2 separate regions of the Homo sapiens genome follow, and region 1 is linked to region 2. Evidence: fine-mapped expression QTL. Tissue or cell type: esophagus muscle. Region 2 holds a variant in brackets; the other region holds the start of a gene. All regions are shown on one strand. Distances are from middle to middle.

Region 1 (2,921 bases), 190 kb before region 2:
CATTTTCAATGTCTTCCTTGACCCCCACCTCGAAGAAGTATGTGTACCTCACAGGTATTTCCAAATCCCTCTGTATGTTCTTTGATTATTGTCTCTCACATCGTATCCATTTATCAAGGAACAAGCTTGTTCCTCCACACAGAGCGGTTCTTAAGTAAGGGCAGGAGAAGCCATATGGTTATCCTCCGGCCCAGGCTGTCAGGTGGTTGGTATTCGGTCTGTATATACTCTGATGCAATCAGTTTTTGAAGGAAAGAACGGTAAGCGCAAATAGAACCATAGCTTGTGTAGCAGGGTTCATGTAAGCAGTGGTTCTTACTGAAAAACAGACCCTGTTCTCTCGGGCTCACTTCTTCCTCCGTGTGAACCACTAATAGGAGGGGACCGAAGGCTGAGGCCAGGCCACCTGGAAGCCCACAACGCTGCTAGTAGCAGCGACAGCAGTAACAGCAACTCACCACTGTAAAATCCTCAGTGCGTTTCCATGTGCTTTCCCTGTCATCTAAATGCTTCTCTTCAGCGGCCTAAGGTGGCCCTTCTTTTTCCCCGAGTTCAGGGAAACACCTCCCTTCTTTCAGAATGTGAGAAAAAAATGGGATTTTCCTGGGGCTGAGAGTGGGGATTCCCTTTCCAGAAACGTGCAATTTTTTCATCCCGCCCACCTGGACTGAAGGCAATCAAAGCGAGGGAGCTCGTGGCATAGTGGAACACTCCAAGCACCCTGGCCCCCCTCCTCCCAGAGAAGGGTCTGGAGCCCCGCAATCCGCTAATTAGCTCGCCCCCATTGGTTGTCCCCAAGGCACCCCCGTGCCGTCACTGTGCTATGCTAATGAGGGGGAGTCTCATTGGCTGGGCCTCCAGCTCCATCTCCACAGGGAGATTGCGGGGAGAGCCGGGTTGGCCGCGTCTGGGGCCGAAACCCACCGCCCCCGATTCCCGCCAGCTCAGGGCTGTGCCGGATGCAAGCCCGCCCGAGGGAACAGTAGCCGGGAGGCTGCCCTCTGGGAGGATCTGGCAACTGCCTTTAAGGAAAGTGCTTCACCATCAAGCGGCGCTCACTCCCACCCCTCTCCCCTCTTTCTAGGCACCGCGCGTCTTTTTCGGCGAAGTAACTTTTTATACCCGCCTCCCCCTAGTCCTGGGGACCAGAGGCGGTGCCGAGCCTGGGGGCGGTTCCTTGGCAGCGTTGATTCTTGTCAGAGCCAGACTTTTGCTCCTGGGTTGGGTTTGCATCATCCCCATTACACCCTCGGGAAAGAGGAGCCAGCCCCCTTTCAAGCCTTAGCTTCCGGCTCCAAGCGGACCCCCTCCCCCTCCCTGTCCCCTTCCCCTTCTCCCATCCCTCTCTCGGCCACAGCGTCTTGTTAGTCCTCTCCCTGTACTCCGCAATATTTTCTTTCTTTCTCCCTCCTCTCCTCCATTTGTTGTTTGATGTTTCCCACTCTTTGAGGAAGGATGGTTGATTTGGAGAGCGAAGTGCCCCCTCTGCCTCCCAGGTACAGGTTTCGAGATTTGCTGCTAGGGGACCAAGGATGGCAAAACGACGACAGGTGAGTGGTGTGGTGGAGGATTGTTCTGTAAATATTGCTGAAAAAGAGACGGAAATGGGAGGGCCGAAGTGGGGAAAGGAGGGAGAAAAGGAAAACGGAGCCAGAGAGGGAGACTAGGCTGGGGGAGGGAGTAAAAGAGACTCTGATTTGTCTCTCCATTTTGACTCTATATAACTGTTGCTATAGATAAGGAACTCTTTTTCTTTACACTTTTCTTATTCTTGCAAGGTATTTATTGCATTCATTTGGTGCTTATTCTTTTGTCTATCTGTGCTTTTCTAGGATGTGTATAAGGCTGGTATCAGAGGTACAATACACCCAAATGGTATGCAATATCATTTCCAGAAAATTTGCATTTTTTCCTTAGGTGTGGTTAATCAAACTCAAAATTGCATGCAAGTTGTTTGAAAAAGCACATTAGAAACTTAAAATCTCCTGAGTCTATTTACCTCCTCCTTGTCTGTGTTGTCTTGAGTAGGTATCTACTTGGCACTGGAAATTTTATGCTGTTTAAACATTTTGGAGTTTTAAGTAGACAATTGGTTTAAATATGTAACAGGTAGTTAGTGAAAATGACAACCTTTTTAATACAATATACTCACTTTGAACAGGTGACTCTGACCATTATGAATAATGATGTTTGTATAACATGATACAACCTTTTCATAACTAGTATATTTTTTTAACTGAAACAGAATATATGTCTCAAAATTAAAATTAAGTTTCAAAACTAGAATATTTATTGTTAGCAAAATATTGTTCATGTGTTTTATTTATAGCATTACTGCTTTGCACAAACTTCTGAAATTCCTCTGTCTATTTCTGTCTCAAGCACATTTTGTATTTCAGCGAATTTAGTATTTTCTGGAATAGTCATCCCATATATCACATGCCACATTTCTTTGTTTTAAAATAATACATGTATACTAACTAGGTTCTCAACTCAATTGAAATGTTTCATTGAAGTTTAGTTTAGTATTGATGTGCTATTTTAGTTATATAAAAGATCCATTATTGGTCCAATCCAAAATCCCCTCCTCATTCACCACTGACCAATACACTCTATTTCTTTTCTTCACCTTTTCAGCTCCCAATACCAACTCCTGTCTCTACACACTGAGGATTTTATCTTGAGCATCAATTATGGGCATCTTGTTTGGTCTCATATTAGTAATTTGAAAGGAGATGGATGTTTTGTAGAGGATATTTTGGTTCAATCTCTTTTTTAGGCAAAACCACACATATTGGCTAAAAATTTAAAGAAGTAATACCAATTTCTCAGTATTCTTGTAAAGTGTTTGGGTAAACTGAAGATAAAGAAAATAATTTTTAAGTGAATTTGTAATACAAATTGACATTTAGATAAACTGC
Region 2 (2,921 bases):
AAGCAGATAGATGAGTGTCAACAGTGAAGGAAGTTAAAATTTAAGTTGAGACAGGAAACAAATTAGAAGCAAGCTGCGTTTTGCAACCGAACCTCAACAGTCTCAGAAAATAGAGGTACCAGATGTCTCTGAATGTAGGGTTATATGTATGACTAAATACATGAATACTGGTTAGAAGTCTATAAGAAAAGTAGGTTCTTTGAACCCCTGTACATATCCATTGCTGGTTACTTTCCTAATCCTGGTAAAAGAGTTTGCTATTTGGAGAATTTGATCCAGGGATACTCTACTCAGAAACACCAGCTACAGTTAAGAGTCTAGGCACCATGCTAAAATTAAGGGAATTAAGAGTAATCATATCACTGAACGTGATATGATTTTCCCAAATGACTCTGAGAAGCATTACAGCCTGGTCCATATCTCTATTGACATTGACACAAGATTGGAGGAGTTTCCTCATGGGAAATGGTTCAACACAAGATAAAATGCATTATATCATTCAATCAAAAGTGTGTGTGCCTGTGTGTGTCTGTGTGTCTGTGTGTGCAGAGATATGAAACCTGGTGTTCCCCAGTGCAATATTAAACATTGATCACTCTAAAATGAAATCTATGTGAGAAAAGCTCTCTGCCTCCACTCAACTCCTAACCTCTTTTGAGTGCTTAACTCCTGCTTGTATTCAGACACCAGACAGCAGACATAGGGATTTGAGGACATTTCTAACAAGAACAAGAAGGAATAAGCAAACAAACAAACAAAAACCATACACAAAAAGAGAAACTCAGAGGAATCAAACAATACCATATAGTTCTGGAAATAGAAATCAATCTTAAAGTATATATTTAATAAATATTCCTAGTAACATGAGAATATGGTACATACATAAAATAAGAATAGTAGACTAGATCACAAAACAAAACAAGACACTCAGTGAACCTGAAAGAGCTCCTGGAAATTAAATCTAGCATAACAAATGAATAATTTAATAAAAAGCCTAGAAGGTAAACCTAAGAACATTGAAGAATGAAGAATAATAAAATGAACAATAAAACCAAATAGTGTAAAAGAAGAATTAAAAAGTTGAGAAAATTATGGTAGTTAGAGAGAAGCAATATCAATATAGTAGGAATTTAAGAAAGGGATTTTATAAAACACTAGGGTAGAATATTATGAAAGACATAATACGCCCAAATTTTCCACACAAAAATTGTCAAATTGAGAGGGCCCACTCATTATACAATAAGGACTAGAAAAGATCTGTGCTGGTCAGGGAGAAGGAAACAAAAGAAGAAGCC[A/G]AAGGAAAAAGGAAAAGGCATATGAGGAAGAGGAACAATAGGAGAAAAAGAAGAAAATATTCAAAACTAAGGGTGGAAAATTGGAATGTCTTCAGATGTCTCATCAGTAATGGCAGAAGACAGTGGGACAATGCTTTCAAAATTCTGAAGGGAAATATTTTTTCACTTAGAATTTTGTATCCTGGCAAAAGTTTGGTCTAGTAAGAAAGTAGAACCAACCCAAATGTCCTTGGAACCAACCCAAATGTCCAACAATGATAGACTGGATTAAGAAAATGTGGCACATATACACCATGGAATACTATGCAACCATAAAGAATGATGAGTTCATGTCCTTTGTAGGGACATGGATGCAGCTGGAAACCATCATTCTCAGCAAACTATCGCAAGGACAAAAAACCAAACACCGCATGTTCTTACTCATAGGTGAGAATTGAGCAATGAGAACACATGGACACAGGAAGGGGAACATCACATTCTGGGGACTGTTGTGGGGTGGGGGGAGGGGGGAGGGGGGAGGGATAGCATTAGGAGATATACCTAATGCTAAATGATGAGTTAATGGGTGCAGCACACCAGCATGGCACATGTATACATATGTAACTAACCTGCACATTGTGCACATGTACCCTAAAACTTAAAGTATAATAATAATAAAATAAATAAAAAAAATTAAAAATTAAAAAAAAGAAAGTAGAAAGAAGTTATTTATATAAACTAAAGATTTTAAAGAATGCACAACTCTCTGGAAGCTGCTGGAAGATGTGTTTACCAAAAACAAGGAGTGAGTGAAGGAGAAGTAGCCTCAGGGGATCCAGCACAGAGGAGAGAATGGAATGGACCCTAAACAGCAGGCTCTCAGTGCCAGCAGTCAGACCATTGTGAGGAGTGGAGAACTTCAGGAAGGCCACCTCTGGGGAGGAGACCAAGCTGGCGTTACCTGATGTGGTTGAGTGTATTGAGAAGAGCTTTCCACTTCTGGGCAGGGGTTTTGGATTGCATTTTGTCTCCCCTTTTATTTTCACTTGTTGGAGCCCTAACTCCTAGTTCTTCACAATTTTACTGTATTTGGATATAGGGCTTTTAAATAGGTAATTAAGTTAAAATGAAGCCATTAGGGTGGGCTCTAATCTAATATGGCTGATGTCCTTGTAAGAGGAGAATAAGATGATAGGATATACAGAGATACCAGGGGTGGGTGTGCATATAAAGTAACCAGGTAAAGAGGCCAATGTCACAGGCCTCAGAGGAAACCAACTCTGCTGGGACCTTGTCCTAGAAATTCCAGTTGCCAGAACTGTGAGAAAATAAATGTCTTCTGTTTAAGTCATCAAACCTGAGTTGTTTTTGTTGTTGTTGTTGTTGTTCTTGAGACTTGAGTTTTGCTTTTCTTGCCCCGGCTGGAGTTGAATGACACAATCTCAGCTCACTGCAACCTCCGCCTTCTGGGTACCATGCCTGGCTAATTATTTATTTGTTTATTTATTTGTTTGTTGTCTATTTATTTTTATTTTTTGTGTTTTTAGTAGAGATGGAGTTTCTCCATGTTGGTCAGGCTGGTCTTGAACTTCCGACCACAGGTGATCTGCCCGCCTTGGCCTCCCAAAGCGCTGGGATTACAGGTGT

Which allele goes with the higher level. Positions count from the first base shown, and alleles are read on the strand shown. Sizes are in standard deviations (SD) of each study's normalised expression.
With allele G in place of A in region 2, the expression in esophagus muscle of the gene that starts at base 1,325 in region 1 is lower (small effect, 0.35 SD a copy in GTEx).

Evidence for each region. PIP is the estimated chance that this variant, and not a neighbour inherited with it, causes the effect.
Region 1: it holds the start of KCNT2, and the variant in region 2 is the best candidate, but not a certain one, in a credible set for the expression of KCNT2 in esophagus muscle (GTEx, PIP 0.68).

The regions. Positions count from the first base shown.
Region 1 is chr1:196,606,844-196,609,764 of GRCh38, reverse strand. KCNT2 (potassium sodium-activated channel subfamily T member 2) reads left to right here and starts at 1,325. Exons shown (of 28, transcript NM_198503.5): 1 at 1,325-1,550. The coding sequence starts at 1,456. RefSeq lists an enhancer at 474-990.
Region 2 is chr1:196,418,212-196,421,132 of GRCh38, reverse strand. All of the region lies in intron 12 of KCNT2 (potassium sodium-activated channel subfamily T member 2), which reads left to right. Among named protein-coding and RNA genes, the nearest start is that of MIR4735, 160 kb to the left of the region's middle. The variant A/G (reference allele first, on the strand shown) is at 1,296.